Linked DNA regions of Homo sapiens: all the other regions are linked to region 1. Evidence: fine-mapped expression QTL. A gene starts in region 1. Each other region holds a variant in brackets. All regions are shown on one strand. Distances are from middle to middle. Region 1 holds the start of MBTPS1 (membrane bound transcription factor peptidase, site 1). Region 2 overlaps MBTPS1 (membrane bound transcription factor peptidase, site 1). Region 3 overlaps MBTPS1 (membrane bound transcription factor peptidase, site 1). Region 4 holds the start of LOC105371378 (a long non-coding RNA gene). Region 5 overlaps MBTPS1 (membrane bound transcription factor peptidase, site 1). Region 6 overlaps MBTPS1 (membrane bound transcription factor peptidase, site 1).

Region 1 (4,000 bases):
CGTGTCTGGGTCAGGTCCCAGCTCCCATTCTCAATCAACAGTTTTGCTGTCATCCGCATCACACATTAGAGCATAAAATAAACTTTTATTTGTCAAAAGTGTTCTGCATAAATGCTTAAACAAAATGTGGTATAGCCATACAACTGAATATTATTTGGTCATAAAAGGAATGAAATCCTGATTCATGCTACAACATGGATGAACTGTGAAAACATGCTAAGTGAAAGAAGCCTGACACAAAAGGCCGCATATCATATGTTTCCATCTGAATATACGAAATAGTCATTAAAGGCAAATCTAGAAAGACAAAGTAGATGAAAGGTTGCCTGTGGCGGGGCCTGGAAATGGGCATTGACTACAACTGGGCATCAGAGGTCTTGGGGTAACGGAAATGTTCTAAAAGTGGATTTGGTAGTGGCTGTGCTGCTGTAAATTTACTAAAAACCACTGAATAGTACACTTAAAACAGGTGGATTTTATGGTATGTAAATTCTACTTCAATGAAGCTCTTACATTAAAAAATAAGTATAAATAATAAAAGCGGATTCTCCAGATTGAAAAAAAAAAAAATGAGAGGAATTACTTCTCTTCTGCAAGCCCTCCTTTTCGTAGACATACAATTGGAGACCTTGACGTTAGGAGGGCTTACCTACACAGTTCAGACTAAAGGATGAGTCTCCAGAATTCAACGCAGGTCGTATTCCACTCCACGTAATTTCGAAGTGTCAATCAGAATCTAATAACTTAATTTGTGTAGACAAATAGGCCAAGATTCTCAGGGGCTCAACCCAATATGAAAGGTAAACATCTTAATAAAAATACTGACGATCCACAACGGTCTTAGGTAGCGCAACCATGCCAAGGCGAGGCAAGATTTTTAAGAAGCTACAGGTTTAAAAGGCAATCTGGTTCTGAGAGTTCGCCGAACAGAATCCCCGCATTTCCAAAAACCAGCAGCGCAATATGCACAGACCGAGATAAGGCAAAGAATCGACGTCTTTTAAACCTGACGCCAGCACTGCCCCGGAAGCGCACCTAGAATTGAGTCTGTCTGGAGGCTCCGGGCCAGAGCAGGGCGTATTGTTTCACTCGGTGAATGCTCATTTCACGTAAAGAAAACCAGGCAACGGAACAAGCTGCCGGAGCGCGCAGACCCCCGCAGGGCCGCGGTACAGGCACGCTGTGTCCAAACAAGCGCCGGAGGCCCCGCGCCCACCTCCCCCGACCCGGCCCGGCCCCCGCAGCCCTCGCCTCGGGGCCTCGGACGCAACCGGCACACCTGAGCGAGCGGGCCGCCGCCGCTAGGCGGAGCGGGTCGGGGAGGCCGCGCGCGGGCGGCTGACGTACCTGCGCCGCCGGGAGCTCAGGGCCGGCGGGCCCGGGATAACGGCGCCTCCGCGGCGAACACGCCTGGGCACTCCATTCGGGGCTGTTTACTCCCAACTCTCGCGAGACTGGGCGACCGGGCCAGCGAGGCCCACAGCTGGGAGCCTCAGCTCCGCCGACCCAGCGTGCCCTGTCTGTCCCGCGCTCCCGGGGCTTGCGTGCGCGCTCTGGACGCCGTGGGCAGCGGGACCACGCCGGGAGGATGGACGAAGGTCTCGCGACATTTGCGGCGGCGGGGGCCGGTGGCAGGGTGGAAGCGGAGGGGCGTGGCCAGCGAGCTGCCAGGCGGCGAGAACGCGCTGGGGGAACCCTTGGTCCGCTCTGCGCGTCGCTCTAGGATCCCCGAAAAGGAGCACGGGCGCGAAAGCGGCCAGGCTGGGCCAGGATCTAGAAAGACTGCCTGGCGCAGGCTCCCTGCCCCCGCGGGCCTGCTGTCATGGACTCGTGGAGAGCTCGCTTCCCGCGCGGACCCTTCCTGCAGGGGTCCACGTCCAGGCACCGGCGGCTCGGACACCCCACCCCCGGCCGGGCACCTGCCCTGGGTGCCCCTTAACCCGGGCGGTAGCTCGTTAAGATGGCGAAGTGTCCGGTCCGGAACACGCGAAACCCCAAATCCCGCCTGCCCGACCTCCTGACCCCCGGCCCCACGGGACGACAGACTGGGCCTCCCGACGCGCAGCGCGCTGCCGGGACACCGGTGCGTGCGAAACGGAGGACCTTTGTAACGCCACGTGTTTGCTCTTTTTGAAAAAACAAGAATAAATGTGTTAAACTGTCTGAAAAGCTTGCCGCCTAAAAGATGTCTGGGTGACTTAGATGCTAGGATCAGTTTGTTTTCAATGTAAATGGACCAGCCCGGACTCCGTACGGCACTAGCAGGGGACTGAAAGCGTCTTCAGGTACTGCTGGTGGGCGGTGATGCGCTACAGGCCGATCAGACAGTTTTGTGTCTTTTGGAACTTGACACTGCACCACGGTAATGCTGAACTGCACCAATATTACAGATCACAGCGCATCATCTTCCTTCAACATGATTTAACACAGTTGACTTAATATGGTGGATAAATGTAGAATCACAAATTACCATACCCCACCTCAGGCTTCTACTTCGTAATTTTGAGCAGGTTGTTTAACCTCTTTGTACCTCAGCTTCTTCATTACAAAAATAGGGGTACTAGCCAGGCGGGGTGGCTCGCGCCTGTAATCCCAGCACTTGGGGAGGCCGAGGCAGCCGGATCACTTGAGGTCAGAAGTTTCAGACCAGCCTGGTCAACATGGGTGAAACGCCGGCTCTACCAAAAATATAAAAACTTAGCTGAGTGTGGTAGCGCATGACTGTAATCCCAGCAACTCAGGAGGCTGAGGCAGAGAATCGCTTGAACCTGGGAGGCGGAGGTTGCAGTGAGCTGAGATCGTACCACTGCACTCCAGCTTGGGCGACAGAGCGAGACTCTGCCTTAAAAATAAATAAATAATTTTTTTAAAAAATAGGGGTACTAATATCTACCTTAAAGGATGAGGGTTAAATTAAGTACACACATAAGCCCTAGCGCAGTGGCTTATGCCTGTAATCTCAACACTTTGGGAGTCTGTGGCGGGAGGATCACTTGAGCCCAGGAGTTTGAGACTAGTCTGGGCAACAGAGACATGTCTCTATAGTTGTGTTTGGTTTTGTTTTTACCAGGTGTGGTGGTGTGCACCTGCAGTCCCAGCTACTAGGGAGGCTGAGGTGGGAGGACTGCCTGAGCCCAGGAGGTCGAGGCTGCAGTGAGCCATGATTGTGCCACTGCACTCCAGCCTGGGCAACACAGCAAGACCTTGTCTCAAAAACAAACAAAAAGCATACTCATAAAGTGCTCGGCTCCTATATGATTCAATATGTGGTGGTGGATTCTTGAATCCTTTCCTGACTCAGATCTCATACGATTTTCTGAACTTTTGGAGAATCCTTGCCTCTCTGCATTTGCAAACCGTCAAAGGCACTCCCTTCTGCCACCACACAAAGCATTTGATTTTAAACTTGACTATGTCCTTCTGTTCCAACTTTAGGTAAATTAATCTTGGTCAGGGTTCTCTGAACAGCCCTTTAGTCACTATGCCATTGAATACATGGCCCTACAGCTGGAAACTGGGGTAGAACAGTGATTGCAGGCATCCATCATGTGACAGCGAGGCCCCAAAGAAGGGGAGAGAATGCCACCACCACCAGTTTCAGAGAATGCCTATACACTGAGGGGACTGGTGTGTGGGAGAGAAGTTACTTGGAGAGCTACCAAGACAGCCTGAGCTACAGGATCCTGGTCTACCACTGGTGGATTCCCACCACTCTGGTTCTAAAATAACTTCCTAAACTTGTGCTTCACATACAGAATAAAGCATCTGTAATTCCATGGGAAGGTAAATCTTTATTCAAATGAAATGTTATTTTAAAGAGTAATAGCTGATGGCACAGGCACTAGCCAACCCTGGGAAAGCCTCCCTGGAGTTGTGGCTCCTGGAGTCCCAGCAGCCACTCTGCAGAGATCTTGGAGGTCCTAGTAAACCTGCCGGTGGCACTACAGGCAGGCTGCTTTTTTGGCAAGGGTGGCTTTGCTGAGAGCATCAAAATCTTGGA
Region 2 (4,000 bases), 58 kb before region 1:
AGCAGTCATGGTAACAGTCCACACCCATTACCATGTGGGTGCTTTACAGCATACTGACGGAAGGACTGAGGAGCCACCGGAGCAGGAGTTCCTCTCAGGGAGGACGCTGACACTTCCACAGCTGCCCTAGGTATGGGCACCTGATGCCAACGAAGAAGCCCAAAGCGCCTCTCCACTTCACAGATGGAAGCCTGCCCCCAGCACTGGGCTGACAGCATCTGGAGCTGTCTCCTGGTCTCAAATCTCTTTTGGAGACTCAGAATATGCGTCGATCTAGGTCTCTGGGGACCGAGAATAATTTTCAACAAGATATGAAAAGCAAGATAAATGTAAAACCCAGCAGCGTACTGAGAAGAAGGAATTACTGAGTGATTGTGAAAATCAAATTCCAGGAGCTGTCCATTATCAACATGCTGGATGGGCCGGTTCAGTATGTGATGGATTATTTGATGTGAACAGGTAGATAGCCAAGGATAGAAAGGATATTGTTATCTGCTTCAAGTCCTGAACAACACTGTGGAGAATAATTGGGTTTCTGGAAATTCAGCTAACACTGTTCACTGAGTATGAATTGCTGACCATGGCTGGAATATAAATGCTGGTTTGAATGCTAGGCTAATAGAAGGTTATAAATAAATAAGATGCAAAAATGGAAACTTATCAGAAATGTTTAAATGATGAGATGTGAACTGGAATGGAAAAGTACCCAGTGATTAAGGTTCAGGAAGAAAGCTACTGATGAGACAATGTGATGATTCTACCATTTTCCTGTGTTCTATTAAGCATATTCGAAATGAAGACATACGGTCAGTGCGTGGTGTGTTCAGCACTTTCGGTTTATGATGAGGAGTAAAGGCGGAAGGCAGCCTCGCCACCTTCACACGGGCACTCTCCTCTTCGCCTTACAGGACGGAAGGTGGCCTCCGTCCCTGGCCCCATACCATCACTGGAGGAAAAGAAGGCAGGCAGGGGGCCTGTCAAGAGGGTAGCCTCCTGCCTGAGGGGCTGGGGAGAGGGGCCGGGTACCAGGCGGCCAGGGGGCCTCGGAGGGCAAGACTCCTGCTTGATGGGGTGGGAGGTGTGCCTGCCCGGCCACGGACACAGCTCTGACAGCTGTCCCTGGCTTCATCCCCTTTCTCAGGAGAAGCTCCCCCTTTCTTCTTATATTGTCCTGTTTGGGCCAGGGACGTCACAGAAAAAGTAAGGGGGTGGCATCTGGAGAAAAAGGGGACCAGCCATGCCGAGCTGGTCCTAGCCACAGAGGGAAACAGCAGGTCCACCTCAAACACTGGGTACGGAAAGGAAACGATGCAAATGAAGAAGCCGAGTTAGTGAGCTGGAGAAGGGATCCAGGCGGCACTGCAAACAGGAGTGTGGAGACAGCAGCAGAGGTCACAGCCTGCCATCGGAGGCGGGTGCTTTCACCCCCAGTCACAGTCAGCACAGGACGTAATGACACAGAAGCATGCTCTTCTTGGACAGGCTGCAACCGCGGCCCCCGGGGATGACAGAAGAAGGGAACTATCTGTATCTTATCATCAATGTCTGAAACAGGGAACACACTGCAGCCGGCAGCTCTTAACTCCCCAACCACAGGACTTAGAGCTCCAGCTCCCATGAAATCACTCTGTTGGATCCCAGCTTTTTAAAAAAGAATTAACCAAATGTAACAAAATGCTAATTATCCAAAGCACTTTTTATGCAGGATACCACCAAAGAGCCTATTTCCAAAGGCCAATACGAGGTTCACTAAATAACTGTCGCAAATGACAAGCTTGAAGATCTGACAATTCGATAGTGATGTCAGTAAAATTCCATTCTCTCCTATAAGAAAAGCAATGACTCACAAGCCCCGTGGAAAGAGTGGAAGGGCACAGGCGGACACTAACCTGGGCGCCGTCTCGTTTAAAGGCTGTGGCTTGGCCCAAGACAAGCGTGGACAGGCTGGTAGAGGCCGAGGTTTTGGGTCTCCCAAATGGGCCTCCAGAACCTTGGAGTACCGATGAAGATGGTTTCCTGTGGTTAGCAGCAACATCAACAAAAAGGAAAATCATCTCTATTACTAAAATGCAAAGGAAAAAGGAGGGCCTTATTATGAGTCTGTCTGCTTTCCCACAACACAGCACAGAGCCCCTGTGCTCTATTAAGCTATCCTCCATGAGCCGCAGGAGCCACGCCTGATTGGTTCCTCCCGGACAATGTGTGTTTCCATTGCTGAAGGTGGGTGAGAAAATCAGAACCGTTCCCTTGAAGATGGGCAGATGTGTGCACAGCACTGGCTGGTCAAACTTTGCTGACCACCACTGACACACGCAAGGCTACACCTGCGAAATCTAAGCTACAGACCGGTTTCATGGAAAAAATACTTCTCTTCTAAAATATTTAATTCTCTGGCCAAATAAAAAACCACTCTGCATTTTCAAAATTCTTTCTAT[T/C]TCTTAGATCTGCACCATTGTGCCAACCACACGTAGCTACTGAGCAAGTGAAATAAGGTATCACGTGTTTAAATTCTAATATTCTTCATGTCTTGGGCTCAAGTATATTATTAAAATAGTTTCATCTGTGTTTCTTTTTACTTTTTAAACGCAGCTCCTGGAAAATTTTAAATGATGCCTGTGGTTCCCATGAGCCTTCTACGGGCAGCGCTGTAAGGACCAGCACACCAGGGACTTAGACGCACTGATACCCACCCCACTAAGTGCCAAGCAGCTGGCGGCCCCACGGCACCAGCACAGGCCCCAGAGGCGGGTTGAGGCTCCACCACCACATACCGCCCAGGCGATCTCAGGCAGTTATCTAATTTCTCTCAGCTCTCATTTCCTCATCTGGAAACTGGGAATAATAACATCTATTTTCACAGGATTACTGAGAGGGGACAGTGAGGTAATCCATGGGAGCATCCCAGCCTGCTGCATGGGACCTGGCAAGTGCTCTAGAATGTTGGTGATTCTTCCTGAAGATCTGTAGGAGCCACTGTCCTCACCTGTGAGAGCGGGACGGTAAACACACTCAGAGTGGCGTGAGGGTCGGGGTGCACGTGGGAAAGCAGCTGCACACTGGGTCCTCGATCATGGCCCTCTGGGGACTAAGGATGGCCTCTCGGCAGGTTAGAGCCGCTGAGTGCTGCTCTACCCGCAGCCATTACGAAAACCACTCAGCGGCGCACACAAACTGGCCCCACTTGCTGGCAGGCACAGCCACTGGCTGAAGTAGCATCATGTTCAGCTGGATCCAATTCCCTCCCCAAGGCATCCTGCCCATCCACTCACCTTCCATCCTCTCTGGAGTGACTGAGCCTGCTCCACTGGGAGGGCGCTGGCGGTTCCCAGAGTGACTGAGGCTAGGCGGTGTCACCCCATACGATGTGTACTGGAGGAGGGCATCCAGAAGCCAAAAGCAGTCTGCGAAGTCAACAAGCCTGTTTAGGAATTCCTTTTTTTTTTTCCAGACAGAGTCACGCTCTTGTCACCCAGTGCAGTGGCGCAATCATAGCTCACTGCAGCCTTGAGCTCCTGGGCTCAAGTGATCCTCCTGCCTCAGCCTCCCAAGTAGCTGAGACTGAAGGCACATGACAGCATGCCCGGCTAATTTTTTATTTTTTGCAGAAATGGGTCTGGCTGGTCTCAAACTCCTGGGCTCAAGTGATCTTCTTGCCTCAGCCTCCCAAAGTGCTGGGATTATAGGTGTGAGCCACCACACGTGGCCCGGAATTTAGCTTTTAAGAAGAAATCTCTAAAGGAATTTTTTTTAAGTTAGTCCCCAAAAGTGGGGGAAATGGGAGTTCAGAAGTCACGAGTTTAGGTCAAAGTAAATCCAACATGTTCCAGATTCCCCTATTCTCATAAGACATGCATTCTCAGTGGCCCAGCCCAGCCAGATAAGCACACACAGCCATGACCTGACCAGGGCTCCACTCCCAGTGCCCCAGGGTTCCAGGTGGTCAGCACCACTGTCCACCAGGTTGCACCAACTGCCTGAGTGCCACACTCAGCTCCTCATG
Region 3 (4,000 bases), 36 kb before region 1:
CCGAAGAGCGCAGTAACCACTGTGAGCACAGCAGCTTGGAGCACCCCGAGTGCCCAGGTCTTGATTTCTTTAGAAGAGGCCATCAGCAAAGAGCTGCTTGGAGACAGAACTGATACCAAGGCTAGAGCACAGAGGTGCATGACAGGACATCCTGTGCTGCCAGGAAGACAGAAAGTGCTCAGAAAAGGCTGGACACATGCTGAAAACACACATAAGCCAACTAGATGGAGCTCCCAACAGCCAACTCGGGGACAATTTGAACGACCCACTAAATGATATTAATTATAATCCACAGAGTAAAATAAATATCTATGTGTCCACACTGATGTAAAGAACTGAATAAATAAATGGGACAGAAAGGACAGCTCTTCCTTCCAGGAGAGTTCCAATTAATCAATGTAAATGGAATGAAGGAAAAAGAAAATCATCACGTGTCAAAGTTGTCAGGAGTAATCACCAAAGGCAAGAACCATCAAGGCATGCTAACATGAGTGAGTGGAAGTATGTGACGAAACAAGGCCATCTCGAAACATGCCCCCACAAGACACTGAGAAGTCACAAAGGAAACACGGGCTGCACAGTGGAGACACCTGGCAGGAGCCACCTCTGGCCCCACAGGGCCAGCAGCTCAGGTCTCCTCTGCAGGACACTGCTGGCTGACACCCGCAGCTGCCACCCTCAGGTCCTCACACGTCTGTGCCAAGGCCACGCTTCCCCTGGGGCTGCTCCCAGCCAATGACTAAGCACACAGGAGGCACCAGGGCAGGCCCATTCTGGGGGGACACAGGACTCCTCCAACAGGCAATCTGGTTCAAGGATTTCCCATCAGCCAAAACTTTTTCAGGCCTGTGCGAGCCTCTTCCTCCCCAGTCCTCCTAACTTTTCGGTGTCAGATCAGCACTGCAGTTCCTGCCTATTCCCACACCCTTCCCTTTATCCTTCAGAGGCCCTCACTCCCCACATATCTTTTGAACATGTAATCCTAGCTTGACGTCTGCTTCTTGGAGGACCCAGACTGACAGACCACATTAATCAAATGATGAAAATGAATACCCCCAATAACAAGATGAAGGAAAACGGAGGAACCGTCTGTGATTAGAGGAAACCAAGAAGACAGGACAATGAAATCCAATGTGGGATCCTGGACTGGATCCCAGAGAATGGACCTGTGGGACAATGGGCGGAATCTGCGTGAAGCCTGCAGGTCAGTCAGCAGTGCTACATCAAGGTTCATTTCCAGACTCTGACGCTCATACTGAGGTTATGGAAGATACTAAGGTGAGGGAAAGCTGGGTGAAGGACTCAGGGGTTCTCATGAACTATTTGTGAAACTTTGCTGTAAATCTAAAATCATTTCAAAATAAGGGTGAAAACAAAGCAGGGCCCAGGCCGGACGGGAGTACCACAGGAGCTGGCGAGATGTATGTGGTCTGCAGGTGAATTACAGCACAGTGTCAGTGTTTGTATGACAGTTTTAACAGCTGTACTCCACTCATCTGAAATGGTGGCATCAGGGGAAACTGGGCAACCTTGTAGGACAACTCTCTCCTATTTCTGCAAAATTTCTGTAAACCTAAGATTATTTCAAGAGTCTAAGAAAGTAAACAACAAAAGCAAAAAAACCACTCAGAAATCATTACTTTTAACCATTTATATTAAAGATCACATCAGTAAGCGAAAGCAGCTACCAGTTCTGCCAGCAGCACCCTGTAGAAGCAGCAGCAAAACCTCTCCAAGCACCCCGAGAATTCTGTGCTTAGTCATCATTTTCTGTTTTGAGGCTTGTATTTTGTGCAGAGGGAAAATTCGCCCAGAGCCCAGTGAAGGAGAGAAAGACCCATCGGCAGGGCGGTGCACTGACCTTGCCTGTGGCTTGTAGCTGTTGAGGATCTGATAGGCTCTGAGCAGATCGAGCTTGCCGTGGCCTTGCTCAAACATGTTGACCCCGGGGAGCCTCCGGGCTGACGCGATCAGGGCCTGCTTCATACTGGCGGGATTCACCAGCTCACGCTTCTGGACTGTGCTGGAGGAAAAATCAAGAATTGCCTATTTTCTCTCAGTAAAAGAATGGAAATTGGACCACTAAAACCTAACCTACAAACGTGCACACAAGAGGCCTGCAGTCTTGTTTAGTATCCAACAGGTGCTTGTCTGGCACAGCCTGCATGAGAGAATGAGTGCACACTCATCTCTGTACCCAATCCAGGACTGACCACTCCGCAACCTTCTACGGGACCCACTTATGCTAAATGCATCAGTAACACATATTTTTGTGATAATTCAACTAAACAACCACATAGGCTGCAGAAGGCATGAATGTATAGGAGGTACTGACTCCTCTGGGGAGAGGAAGCCTGCTGGTC[A/G]CAGGAAGAAGATGCCATGGGACACCGCCTGGCTGGGAGAAGGAGGAGCACATTCAGATCCTGGGGAGGGGCCACGACACAGGACTAGCAGGAGGCACAGGTCTGAGTGAGGACCGCCGCCTCCAAAGCCAATCCTTGCCTTTTTGTTTCCAGATTGGGAGGCTTGTCTGGGATGAGCCACCCTGATGGATGATGCCTTTCAGAACGACATAGACCTAAGGCCACCTTCAGTTTCACCATGAGAATGCATCTGAACAAGCTTTAACACACAGTGTGACCTGGCTAGGAACTTAGCCTGGTGATACTAGCGTTACAACATCCATTTTTGTGTATTTATGTATTATAAATACAAGTGAATTTTAATTCCTAAAATTGAGGTGGGAATATCAGTACACAAAAAAGGAAAACTTAACTCTCCTAAGTTCCTAAATATTCGTATGTGATGATGTTTGGTGTTGGAGTCTAGGCAGGTTTTCTAAATGGGAAATCTGACATAAGTAGAGGAGATAAAGTAGATTCTTAATGACAGAAGAAAAGAAGTGCTCAAAGCTATGGGTCAACAATCTTCCTCCTCTTCCTGCCTATAAAGTGAACTCAAGGGTTGCGTTCCACTGCCTTTCACAGCATCATCAGGCTGGAGCTCGGGAGGCCCGCCACTGCTGCTCGGCTTCCATTATGAGCGACTGTCACACACAGAGATCACAACGGCAGTTTCATCTGCTGCAGGGAGATGAGGAGACTGAAAGGCTTCCTTGTTGCTGAAAATATCTGTACTTAAAGAAGCTGCTGGGAAAAGGAACAACCCCTCGGCTGCCCGCTTACTCAACAGCAGAGAGCTGACGGGCTCAACAGTGAAGGCAGAGCCCTCACTTCCTGCTAACAATCATGGCGTTTAGGAGAAATGAACCAGTATTTTCTGTTTCCAGAATCAACAACATTAGAAGCTGCAGCCCTAACTGAATTCTCTCCACCTGGCAAATACAAGTGTGCAAACAGGCCAGGTAGCCCACTATCCACCTTCCCTCCACTCTGTTCCTCACTTGATATAACACTGGAGAGAGGAAAACAACGGCAAGAGAAGACAGTGTTTCCAGCAAGCACATGGTTATTCTCCAAAGGCCAGTCTGGCCAATGTCAACATTCTCAAGAATTTGGCTGCAAACTGTAAGGGAAGAACAGAGAAAGGAGGAAAGAGATGGATATCTACCCCTTTTTTTTTTTTGGTAGAGATGAGGTCTCACTATGTTGCCCCAGCTGCTCTCAAACTACTAGCCTCAAACAATCCTCCTGCCTTGGCCTCCCAAAGTGCTGGGATTACAGGTGTGAGCTACCACAACCAGCCAAGTATCTAGCTTTATTAAGGATTACTAACAAAATAATATCTGGCATCAGAAGCTGAAATCAATATTCAATTTACTTAAAGAGAACTTAAAATATAAAGACATTTAATACTATTTGCCTATATTAATTAATTTTTAAATTAGCATAGAATAACTTCCAAATACGCAGAGTTTTGTGTGTTATCACAACACTCAACTAAAACTTCATCTAGATAGAAGAAGTACAATTTATTTTTGGGGAAAATACAGTAACAAGATAAATGCCAGCCCCAAAGACATCCTTTTACAACTGAGAGT
Region 4 (4,176 bases), 670 kb after region 1:
TTAGCTTCCTTGCTCCTCAGCCTGCAGACGGCCTACTGTGGGACCCCTTCTTGTAAGTCAATACTCCTTAATAAACTCCCCTTTATATATACATCTACCTATAGGTTCTGTCCCTCTAGAGAACCCTAACGCACAACGTTTCCATTTTATGTTGCAACGTTTAATGTTTTTGTAAGTTTCATAGTACGGTCTCCTAACTTTAGGTTATTTACTTCGGGAACTTTGCTCATTAACCTTGGTGCTGAGGCTACAGACTTAGTGATTTTCCTTCATTATCATTTAACATGCCTTTGTAGGTGGCATTTAAAGCAGTGAATGGTTACATTTTTAGTATGTTATAGGGAGATTTTCCTCGCATTTGTCAGTTGTTGACAACAAGACTTGGAAGTTCTCTTACAGGGAAGATGTCATGAAGTTTACCTGGTTGGTATGTTATTTGTCCACTAGCCAAGGAAGCGCAAGCCACTGTGTGTTTGAGGCAGGATGGAGAATGGAGGTCATTCTGGCCTCCACTGGTGTAACTATGGTTCAGCCACCCAAGTGGCTCACAGTGGCATTCTGCTTTCATTTCTCTCTCTCTCTCTTTTTTTTTTTTTTTTTTTTGAGATGGAGTTTTGCCCTCGTTGCCCAGGCTGGAGTGCAGCGGTGCGATCTCAGGTCACCGCAACCTCCACCACCCAGGTTCAAGCGATTGTTCTGCATGTGCCACCACACCCGGCTAATTTTGTATTTTTAGTAGAGACGAGGTTTCACCATGTTGGTCAAGCTTGTCTCGAACTCCTGACCTCAGGTGATCCAGCTGCCTCGGCCTCCCAACATGCTGGGATTACAGGCGTGAGGCACCGTGCCCAGCCCCTGCTTTCATTGCTTGATGTCATTGGTCATACCATCCTAGTCTAATGTGTGGGCAACGTGAGCAGGAACTTTGCAGTCAGCAAAGGCATCATCTTAGAATGTCTTTTATTTGGTGACGTTTCTGATTATTGCTGTCATAGACTGCTTATACTTGACCAGGCCAACTGGTTACAAAGTGACAAGCATAGTCCAAGTCAGTGGCTTTTGAACTATGGGAAATAACCCAATAAACCAGTGAGCTAGTATTGTACAGCCAACTCACGTTCATGAGTCAATGAGAATGAGCAAGTTGTAGCAGTGTGGACACAGCAGTCTCTTGGCTTCATTTCTCTTGGGAAGTGCTGAGTGCATCAAAAGAACTAAAAACAGCAAGAGACAGAAGACTCACAGTTTTTCTGGTACTTCTCTGGCTCAAGAAGGAAAAATATCTTGACTGAGCCTAGTGAAGACAGTATCTCTATACCAATTTCCTGAGGGTCAGTGGACTTAAAAGAGATTAGACCAAAATGTTAGTGTTTTTAAAATCCGTGTCTAGCAAGGCCAAGTGGTAATAGCCAACTCTACACGAAGTGTTTTGTGTTTCCTTTATTGTTTTTTGTTTGTTCGTTTGTTTGTTTGTTTTCTGAGACAGTCTTGCTCTTGTTGTCCAGGCTGGAATGCAATGGCATAATCTCAACTCATTGCAACCTTCACCTCCTGGGTTCAAGTGACTCTCCTACCTCAGCCTCTCGAGTAGCTGGGATTATAGGCACCTGCCACCACACCAGATAATTTTTGTATTTTTGGTAGAGACGGGGTTTCGCCATGTTGGCCAGACTGGTCTTGAACTCCTGACCTCGTGATCCATACACCTCGGCCTCCCAAAGTGCTGGGATTACAGGCATGAGCCAACACGCCCGGCATGTTTTTCCTTTAAAATCAGTCACAGCAAAAGTCACCGAGCAGACACTGTTCTGCCTTCTTCAGACATTTTCTCTGGCTTCCTAGGAATTGGGGTTTTTTTTGTTGTTTTTGTTTGTTTGTTTGTTTGTTTGTTTTAGTGTTATTCATCTTTTAGACT[G/A]GCCGTTCCCATCTTATTTGCACCTTTTGGGGAAAAGTTAACTTGCTCGAAAATGAAATGCACCCGATGGCATCTGCTGGCTTTACCTCATGGTGATGTTCCTTTATGAACTAGTGACCAAATGCTTCATTCTCTTTTCTGATTGTTTCCCTCCCTTTGCTCATCCCCCACCTCAGTAAGACATGTTACATCATTTTAATGAGCAAGTGTACATTTTTTTCCAGTGGGACTCAAATTGTACGTTTGCTTCTTGGTCGTACATGCATTTTGTTTCACGGATTTAGTTGTGTCTCCTGTTGTTCTGTGGTCAGGATACGGGATCATTTGCTAGGCACTGATTTGCTGAACACAGTAGTATTTCGTTGAGTGGCCCTTCCTTGGAAACAACTGGCAAGTAAGCAAACCTGGAAATCACTGTTCTGTGCTGTATTTTCAGTAAAGGGAATTTACACAGCGCTTGCTGCTGTGGGATTTGCAAACTATTTTATTTTGACTCTAGGATTTCACACAGTGATATGCTTAAGATATTTTTTATAATTTTTTTTTTTTTTTTTTTTTTTTGACAGAGTCCCACTCTGTAGCCCAGGCTGGAGTGCGGTGGTGTGGTCTTGGCTCACTGCAACCTCCGCCTACCGGGTTCAAGCGATTCTCCCTCCTCAGCCTCCCTAGTAGCCGGGATTAGAGGTGCACGCCACCACACCCAGCTAATTTTTGTATTGTTAGTAGAGATAGGGTTTCACCATGTTGGCCAGGATGGTCTTGAACACCTGGCCTCAAGGGATCCACCCACCTCGAATTCCCAAAGTGCTGGGATCACAGGTGTGAGCCACCGCGGACGACCTATAAAAACTTTTATCCCTTTCATTTTCTCATAGACTCCCGTTTAAGTTCTTGCTCTGTTTTGGGGGAAAGTGTTTATTGTTTGATTTTCTAATAACGAAAACATTAGAGTAGCTTCATTTATGCTGCCTGTTTCAAGCCAATACACTGCTCAGTTGTGTTTGTGTATTTGAAAAGTCCCCTGATAGGAACTTTCTGAGGGGTGCCTGTGTTGTTGGCACATTTGAGAACTAGACAAAATCTAACTCTGTGTCTTTTTTCTTTCTTTTTCCCCTATTATTTGGTTTTGTTTTTTTAACAACCCCTCTGGAGTGTGTTTTGGTTCATGGGATCAGGCCACGTGCCCTGGTTTTCGAGGTATAGCCTTGGCTTTCTTGGGTCGGGTCTAATAACCCTGACCTTGGACTTCCCACGTGTCCTTCAAAGAAAGCAATTATTTTTGCCTATTTTCTGAGTATGATGGTATTCTCCATTTGATTTAACAAAAAAATTCTTCCTCTGCTTTAAAAGACTGAAAGCCTCCCTGTAAGGTGCTGATTGCCTTCCAGATCTGAGGACCCCGTCTCTGCCTCATTCCTCCTGTTTCCATCAGAAGACACAGGTCTGGGACTCAGCGCAGCTGACCTGTCTGTCCCTCTCTGCACAGGTAACCACTTATTTATTGCTGCTTAAAGTAGAGCTTCTGATACCCATGGGGCTGGCAAGAGACCCTGACATTCTTGTCTTATTTTATCACATACAGTTTACTCCTGGGCTCTGCAGAGAGAAGTCAGTGCCTCAATTTTCCATTGAAATATGCACCCTTGGCATCCTGGCAGGTGAGCGGCGCCCCCTTAGGGCTAATACAGTGACATAAAATGTGTCATATTTTTGGCTGTGTGGTGGCTCATGCCTGTGATCCCCACACTTTGGGTGGCTGAGGCAGGCTGACTGCCTGAACTCGGGAGTTGGAGACCAGCCTGGCCAACATGGTGAAACCCCATCTCTACTAAAAATACAAAAATTAGCCAGGCATGGTGGCATGCACCTGTAGTCCCAGCTACTTGGGAGACTGAGGCAGGAAAATCCCTTGAACCCGGGAGGCAGAGGTTGCAGTGATCTGAGATTGCGCCACTGCACTCCAGCCTGGGCGACCGAGTGACACTTGGTCTCAAAAAAAAATTAATTGTCATATTTTTGAAAAAGTATATTAGCTTTGCAATGAGTAAAGTTCACTCTCTAGGAAGATGTCCCTGTTTCCTGTGGCTACAAATGCTCCCTGCCACACTGGGAGGCCGCACCTCACTGCGCCGGAGTGCAGTCTTCAGTGGGGTCCTCTGCTGTGACCGAAAGAAGGGTGCAGCCGGGCCTGCTTCCAAGGCTAGGGTCTGAGACCTGGAGTGTGTCCATGGATATCAGATGTTGAGCTACAGGGGACCGGC
Region 5 (4,000 bases), 25 kb before region 1:
GCGAGGGTATGTTCATGCCACTTACATCTATGGCTCATGATACGTATCACTGATGCGACAGCAAAATCCAGAACCCTGGACCTCTAACAAGGTTCACGATCATTTACTCAACTATTAGGCTAGAGTCCTATGAATGCCAATATTCACGTTTTCTGATATGCAAACATGAACTTCACATAGCTTCACCTTGTCTTATGCCCTGGATTTGTGTAAAGCATCCTACAGAAACTTCGAGCACAAGAAATGACTTATAAACATTATCTAGAGAATAAAATGAAGCTGCTGGTGGAAAGAAAACTGAGACCTCTAACCAGACAGGAGCGTACTGGCTGGGATTCAGTGGCAAATGTTTCGCATCTCACGCTGCTTAAGTTTAGCACAAAGGCCCCCCTGTGACACTGTCCTCCCTGCCTCCCTCCTAAATGATCCCTCTCATCAACTCCCAAAGCACCGGCCATGTTGCCGTTAGGCCCGCCAGCACTTCCCCTGTGAATGAGTGTCACTGTGCTCGCACCTGCTCTTTCAGAGAGAGGCAGAAACCTCTTCCGTTTGCCTCTTTACCCGGATGCTTTGCACACAGATCTCATCAACACTGCAGAATCCCTAATAGATTCACTTTTCTGATTGATTTTTGGGGAAAAAAAGTAGTTAGAATAAAAACTTTAGGCCTCTAAATTACTATTTGTAACAAAATTTTAAAAATATATAAATAGAAGGAAGACCGGCCTTGAGGTGACAACTGCTGAGGTGAGTGGTGAGTACCTGGGTGTTCATCTACATCCTATAGTATTTTTTTACATGAGGAAAACATCCTTAAGACAAGTTTTAGACAGACATAAACAAGTAACCATAGGTAGATACACAAACAGATAACAATTTTTCAGTTATTTAAGGGGGAAAAAATCCCCGAGGTCATCCCTGCTGGGGCTACTTACCCATAAAGAGGTCCGTCATTGCCAATAGCAGAAACCATGATTACATTGTTAGCTGTTAATTCCCACACCTACAAAAGGAGCATTTATTTAATGAAAGTATCCCTTTCATTAAACATATAACTGTCAAAAAAAAAAAAAAAACCATACACAACGTCTAAAAACAGTTCTAAAAAAGCAGCACTGGCCCATTATAAAGGCGGATGTGCTGGCAACTTGCATTTTTAGAGGATACCACCCGGGACGGAGAAGCACGCAGTGCACAGAGCAGATGCTGACTTTCTAGTCACTTTGAGGAAAACACGAATTGCATGTTTAGGTAAGAAAGAATTGGCAGGGCATGGTGGCTCACGCCTGTAATCCCAGCACTTTGAAAGGCTGAGGTGGGTGGATCACCTGAGGTCAGGAGTTGGAGACCAGCCTGGCCAATTCGGTGAAACCCCGTCTCTACTAAAAATAGCAAAATTAGCCGGGCATGGTGGTGTGCACCTGTAATCCCGGCTACTTGGGAGGCTGAGGCAGGAGAACCGCTTGAACCTGGGAGGCGGAGGTTGCAGTGAGCCAAGACTGTGCCATTGTACTCCAGCCTGGCCAACAAGAA[T/C]AAAACTCCATCTCAAAAAAAAAAAAAAAAAAAAAATCAGCAAGGCACCATGTGCTCCTTATCAACACCTACTCTGAGGCCTCTAACCCACTCAATTTATGACATGCAAATCACTGAAGCTCACGTCATTAGCCATCTGTTCTCACAAAGCTGTCACCACCTGGATGAAAAGCCACCAACACACTAGATATGATGCAAAGTTGGGCTGCGAAAGAGCAGGAGCTGTCACCCAAACCCCGTGTGCAGTGACTCCACAAACCTTGTCAACAAACGGATGATCCATGAAGTCCGGGCCGCCGATGCTGAGGTTTAACACGTCGATCTTCTTTAAAATGGCATAGTTGAAGGCGTCCAAAAACCAAGATGTGTAAGATACCTAGTTAAATATTATAACAGTCTGCTTAGTGTTTCAATCAAGTTTTAAAGTGCTAGGACAGTTTTTATTTCTAAGGCTCTTTTAAAATTACAAGTAGTTCTCTTAATTTTTTTTTACTTAAAACCAGAAATGAATCCTGAGCATGCATAATGCTCTGGAGAGTAAAATACAACACGTAGAAGTTCTAAGTCCTTGGAGCTGAACCTAAGGAAGAGGCAGCTGTGTTCTGCAGGTGGCCTATCTCTCTAGGTGAAATGCACAGCTCTCTACACAAAGAATGCCTTCCTAGATAACACCCAAGCTCCCAACCGCCCCTCTCCTACAAAAGGACTTATCCCAAGGCACTTCTATTAAGTTAAGCATTTTGGAATAGTTCAACTTATCTATCTAACCTTCTTCATTCCTAAACAGACTGAAGGACAAATGGCAGCAGTAACAGTTATTTCACAGTATTAGTCTTCTGATGTTCAAGTGCTCCTATGTTCCTTACAAAAGCTTCATTACTTTGTGGATCACCTTTAGCTGTTGCTTTTTTAAAAAATATAAAATTAAGTTTATGGTAGGAAGAGAAGCAATGTAATGATTAAGATTATGTTTTTAAAGGTTTTTAAAAGACCAGGTACTTATATTTTCTCATATACACCAAAGAAATTCTACGAGGAGGTATAAGAAAGGAACATCATCACACAGGACACACGGGCCAGTGAGGAAAGAACCTGCTGGACGGGGACAGGGGTGGGGGTCTCACTGTGTTACCTTCTGACATTTCTGAGCTATGCATTACCTATTCAAAAATTAACCTTAAAAAATAAATAACGAAAAAAGAAACAAATACTAGGACCCTCTCCCTTTTCTATAGTTTCCAAATGAAGAGTGAAGGAACAAGGCTTGTAAACTCCCATTACCCAACACAATGCCAGGTGTCGGGACACAGAGGTAAATAAAACAGCTCAAGGTGGTAGGAACCCAATCAGGGAGGCAAGCACACTTATTCTATCTGCAATTGTTCTGTTCTATCATGCAGACAACCGACCCAGGGTACAGAGGCCTGGGGAAGCCTGGAGGTAGAGAAGAAACAAGGGAAATCAAAGAATCGTCGTAAGTAGTAGCCTCGGCAGGGTCTTCAGGGTTCAACTTAGGTCGACACAGTGGTTGGTGGGAGAAGGGCGGAGCCACCCAGGAGGCAGAGGAACAGTAAACTGAGCATGCGTGCTGCAGTATGAATGGCTCAGCGTCACTGACGTGCACTCCTTTTACACAAGTGTGTACAGTCCAGTGATTCTGCTTTTTACATTTCAGTATGAATTCCTCAAGTTTCAGGAGTCCTCAAAACACCTACCTGATTATTGGTAAAGACCCTGAAAATGTGAAGTTCTGCATCTGGAGCAAATCCTTGGCACTCCCTCATGCTGGCTATCACACCTGCCACGAATGTGCCATGGCCCAACCCTGCAGTCCATAAAGAAAACAATCCCATAAAACACACTGAATAGCAAGTGCCAGGACGCAACATTCCAGGCCATGAGTTCCACGGCCTTCCATTTCCAAGTGCTGGATAGAGGAGGGCCTCTGCTGCTGCTCTACGATCCCCTTAGACGTCACTGGCACAAGCACCCCTTCCAGGTCTAGCCACTCCACGCTCTCCGGGACAGGGAGCTGCCCCCACACCAGGCATGCCCACTCTCTCCTGAAGTGCTACCTCCCGACATCCTATGAGGTATTCAGAGCAGTTTCTGCCACAACAAAAAGCACAATAACACCTTGGGCTTGTCTGAATAATTGCTGGACAGACTGTGGAATCATGCACTAAACACACTCTCAGTCGATCACATGACCACGTTCTCACTGCTGCTGAGACCCACCATCGTCCAGCGTTCGCTCGTTGGTCCAGTTGGTTCTCTCCTTCACATTTTTGAAGTGGGGATGCTTCTCGCTCAGCCCAGTGTCAAAAACAGCAACTCTTACATTAGCACCTTATTCGGAAAAGAAAGCAAACACAATTATGTTTGAAGAAATCATCATTTTGGATTTTGCCTATAAAATACATTCCTTCCTGGGACCCACAGAAAATGACATATTGTGGAAGGCCAA
Region 6 (4,000 bases), 41 kb before region 1:
CTCTGTCATCCAGGCTGGAGTGCAATGGCATGATCTTGGCTCACTGCAGCCTCAACCTCCTAGACTCAAGTGATCCTCCCACGTCAGCCTCCTGTGTATCTGGGACCACGGGCACACACCACCATCCCTGGCTAATTTCTTTATTATTTGTAGAGACAGGTCTCACTTTGTTGCTCAGGCTGGTCTTAAAGTCCTGGGCTCAAGTGATCCTCTCTCCTCGGCCTAGAACTTTTCCTTTTTTAACTTCAGCAGAAGTAACTATGGCCTAAAGGTCTGGGCTGTGTCTAAGTTCACCATCAAGTCAGAGACCAAGTCAGAGAGAAGTTTCACCTTATCTACAATTCTTCCTGTGACTCCCATGCCGTTGAGGATGGTGACATTAACAACTGTCGGCATTCCTCCATAGTAGATGGGCTGGGAGCAGTAGGGCCACATGTAGGGACACTCAGTCAGATCTATGTAGCTGGGGCTCAAACTGAAATAAAGAATACAGTGTTAGAGTAGATCATATGAGAAAACTACAATGAAGCAACACAACTGTACAAGACAGAGTTAACAAAGCAGACCTAGCTTCAGAAGGGCTTGCTTACAGCGCTGCCCTAGGCTGGCATCTGGGAACTTGGCTCTGGAATGCTCCTGCACAGATAAGGCCTCTGTGCCAGCCTGCTGTCTATACAGACAGTGTGATGTGCAGGGACACCTCTGCTTTTGCAAGTCTGGAGCTTTGGGAGTTGTCACTGGCAGAGAATGAGTACGTGACCAGCCCTAATGGAAACTTGGACTTGAGTCTCTAGAGGGCTTCCCTGGGCAAAAACACGTACACATGTCAATGCAGCTTGCTGCTAGGAAAGGGGCCAGCTCTGTGAGACCCTGCCTGGCAGGAGAGAGGGGAGAGCTTAGGAAGCTGCGCCTGGATTTCTCCAGGCTTTCTCCGTGTGAGGCATCTTTTTCCCTTACAGAGCCGCTGTGCATCCTTGCTGTGCCACTATAATGAATCTTAGCTGGGAGTATGACCACAGGCTGAGTCCCGTGAGCCCTAAAGCACCGAGCCTGGGAGAGGTGCTGGGGACCCTGACATAATTTGTGTCAGAAGTGCTGACACAAGTGCTCTGGCAATTATGTTGGTTTCATGGTTTCCCCTTATCTGAACTGAGTTTGTGTTGGGTTCACATCACTCCTAGTGCAGCAGCGGTGTCAGCTACGCCCGAACAGGTGAAAAGACAGGAACAGACAAATGTTTCAGACAAGACGTGACCCACGATGGCCTCCCTGAGAGCACCAGGCATACGTGGATCCTGCTTCTCAAGCTGCACCCACGTGCAGTGGGCGGGCGGCTCTGCGCAACTGCTTCACCTCATTACAGGAGATGCCAGCCTTTCTCAAACAGCAACTACGGTATAAGGAGTACTTTTTATTAGTTTGTAATAACAAAGATGTATCTGGGCCAACTGAATTGCTATTTAAGAAACCAAATGGAATATCTTTAGGGATACTGTGACTTTCACAGGCAGTTATAATCAACACATATCACAGTTAAGTTATCTCAACAGATACCACCTTCACAAGTCTGAAGTTCACCAAAAAAAGAAAAAGAAAAGGAAATAGGTACTACCTAGTTTTAAAAATCCTGAATGGATCGGCCATGTGACTACAATTGTATGCATCAGCAAAGGTATCTGTTCTACTTGAAATGTGTTTGTAAACTTTGCTGGTAATTGTGCTCTGTAATCAGTTTAATTCGACTACTAATTCAACATGATTTAACTAGGAAACCATTATTAGCAAACAGAATTCAACATCATATTAAGAAAACAAAATAGCAAGACCAGTGGCATTTATTACAGATTGGTTCAATATTGGGAAACTCATTAATATCATAAACCATATATATTAATAGGTCTAAAGTATTCATATGATTACCTTTCTAGATGCTGAAAAAACATACAAAATTCAATCCACAGTCCTCATGAAAACGCTCAGAAAAACAGCACTAGACAGATAATCTAACACAATAAAAAATATATACATATATATATAGATATACACACCTTAGGGATAAATCCAGCATCTTACTTAACGGAGAAATACAAGAGGCATTTCCATTAAGATTAGGAACAACGTAAGG[A/G]TAGCCACTCTCTCCCCTGCTGTTCAACACTGTGCTAGATATACCAGCCCATGCAACTAGACAGAAAATAATCAATGAAGCCTTAAGAATTGGCAAGGAAGATGTAAAACTATCTTTATTTCCATATGGTAGGTTAGTACACCTGGAAAACCCTAGAGAAGCAATAATAAAACTAACTCAAACAATAATTCAGATAGGTAGCAGCATATAAAATTAACATATAGAAATAAAATCAACCAGTTAGAGAATATACAAGAAGAGAAAGCCCCATCTACAGCAGCAACAAAAAGATTAAATACTTAAACTTACCAAGAAATGTGTAAAACCTATATGAAGACAACTGTAAAACCTCCTGGAAGACACACAAGAGCAAATGGAAACATATCCTTTGCTCTTAGACAAAATAACAGCATTATAAAAATATTACTTCTAAGTTCATTTAAAATTTGATGCAATTGCAACAAAAATTCCAACAAGCTTCTTTCATAGAATTAAGTAAGATGATATGAAAATTCATATGAAGAAAACAAACATGCAAGAATAGCCAAGAAGGGCCGGGTGAAGTGACTCACGCGTGTCATCCCAGCACTTTGGGAGGCCGAGGCGGGAGGACGGCTTGAGCCCAGGAGTTGAAGACCAGCCTGGGCAACATGGCAAAACCCTGTCTCTACTAAAAATAGAAAAATTAGCGGGGCATGGGGGTATGTACCTGCAGTCCACCTACTTGGGAGGCTGAGACGGGACAGTCACCTGAGCCCAGATGGCAGAGGTTACAGTGAGCTGAGATCATGCAACTACACTCCAGCCTGAGCCACAGAGCAAGACCCTGCTGCATTAAAAAAGAAAAAAAAAAAAAAAAGAGAGAGAGAAAAGAAAAGAAAGAAAGAAAAGAATACCCAAGAAAACAACGAAAAAAAAAATTACAAGGGGAACTAGCACTAACAGATATTAAAACATGCTATAAAGTCTTTATAATCAAAACAGTGTGGTACCAGTACATGGACAGACAGACCAGTGGAACAGAATGGAAAGCTCAGGGATAGACATAATACATATGAAAACTTAGTACATAATAAAGACAGTATCTCAAATCACTGGGGCAAAGATGGACTTTTTAATCACAAGAGCTTTAACAAATGGGTGGCCATTTGGCAAAAGAAAAAATTACATCCCTACCTCCAAACAATACACAAAAATTAACTCCAAATGGATCAAGGAATTTCAAGTAAATAAAAGAAAGCAAACAAATATTAGAAGAAAACACAGGTGAATTTCTCTTTTACCTCCCTCAGTGCAGAAAAAGACTTTCTAAGGACTCAAAATACAGAGGCATCAGCTGAAGAGTAACAAATGTGACTATTAAAAAACAACTGCATGGCAAAAACACCTTACACTAAGTCAAAAGACAACTGACAAAGTGGCAGAAAAATCCGCAACATGCATCCCTGACGGAGGGTTACTAACACTCATATATCGAGAACTCTAAAGAGGGACCAAAAACCCCATTGAAAAAGAAATGAACAGACAATTCACAAGAAAGCTTAAAAAAAAAAAGCTCTTAAACATGGACTTAGGTGTTCAAACTCACTCATAAATAGAGAAACACAAATTAAACAATACTGAAATACCATTTCTTACCAATCAGATTTGTAAAAATAACAAGACAGAGCACTCTGTCAGTGAGGCTTTGGGGAAACCGGCACTCACGCACACTGCTCACGCAATACCAAAAGGCACAACCCTTTCACAGAGAAACAAAGCAATGCCTAACAGAGCTACCCGATGCTCTCAACGCTGACCAGCAGTGCTACCTTACCTAACAGAGCTACCGGGCGCTCTCGACCCGGACCAGCAGTGCCACCTTACCTAAGTTAC

Evidence for each region. PIP is the estimated chance that this variant, and not a neighbour inherited with it, causes the effect.
Region 2: its variant is fine-mapped to the expression of MBTPS1 in whole blood (INTERVAL, PIP above 0.99). The same link has a PIP of 0.9 or more in T cells, esophagus muscle, lung, monocytes, subcutaneous fat and tibial artery.
Region 3: its variant is fine-mapped to the expression of MBTPS1 in whole blood (TOPMed, PIP 0.93).
Region 4: its variant is fine-mapped to the expression of MBTPS1 in neutrophils (Naranbhai 2015, PIP 0.91).
Region 5: its variant is fine-mapped to the expression of MBTPS1 in monocytes (TOPMed, PIP 0.99). The same link has a PIP of 0.9 or more in T cells.
Region 6: its variant is fine-mapped to the expression of MBTPS1 in whole blood (INTERVAL, PIP 0.98).

Annotation. Positions count from the first base shown.
Region 1 is chr16:84,115,388-84,119,387 of GRCh38, forward strand. It overlaps MBTPS1 (membrane bound transcription factor peptidase, site 1), which reads right to left and starts at 1,555. Exons shown (of 23, transcript NM_003791.4): 1 at 1,348-1,555. MBTPS1-DT (MBTPS1 divergent transcript) reads left to right here and starts at 1,656. Exons shown (of 1, transcript NR_186375.1): 1 at 1,656-3,776. It also overlaps the pseudogene LOC648774. RefSeq lists silencers at 1,046-1,475, 1,876-1,975 and an enhancer at 2,126-2,285.
Region 2 is chr16:84,057,413-84,061,412 of GRCh38, forward strand. MBTPS1 (membrane bound transcription factor peptidase, site 1) reads right to left here. Exons shown (of 23, transcript NM_003791.4): 20 at 3,270-3,401; 21 at 1,890-2,016. Among named protein-coding and RNA genes, the nearest start is that of SLC38A8, 17 kb to the left of the region's middle. The variant T/C (reference allele first, on the strand shown) is at 2,436.
Region 3 is chr16:84,079,886-84,083,885 of GRCh38, forward strand. It overlaps MBTPS1 (membrane bound transcription factor peptidase, site 1), which reads right to left. Exons shown (of 23, transcript NM_003791.4): 11 at 1,862-2,023. Among named protein-coding and RNA genes, the nearest start is that of MBTPS1, 35 kb to the right of the region's middle. The variant A/G (reference allele first, on the strand shown) is at 2,364.
Region 4 is chr16:84,781,915-84,786,090 of GRCh38, forward strand. LOC105371378 (a long non-coding RNA gene) reads left to right here and starts at 2,682. Exons shown (of 3, transcript XR_001752293.2): 1 at 2,682-3,401; 2 at 3,498-3,573. The variant G/A (reference allele first, on the strand shown) is at 1,916.
Region 5 is chr16:84,089,940-84,093,939 of GRCh38, forward strand. It overlaps MBTPS1 (membrane bound transcription factor peptidase, site 1), which reads right to left. Exons shown (of 23, transcript NM_003791.4): 5 at 3,772-3,882; 6 at 3,249-3,358; 7 at 1,793-1,909; 8 at 936-1,003. Among named protein-coding and RNA genes, the nearest start is that of MBTPS1, 25 kb to the right of the region's middle. RefSeq lists an enhancer at 1,610-2,809. The variant T/C (reference allele first, on the strand shown) is at 1,534.
Region 6 is chr16:84,074,267-84,078,266 of GRCh38, forward strand. It overlaps MBTPS1 (membrane bound transcription factor peptidase, site 1), which reads right to left. Exons shown (of 23, transcript NM_003791.4): 12 at 331-475. Among named protein-coding and RNA genes, the nearest start is that of SLC38A8, 33 kb to the left of the region's middle. The variant A/G (reference allele first, on the strand shown) is at 2,126.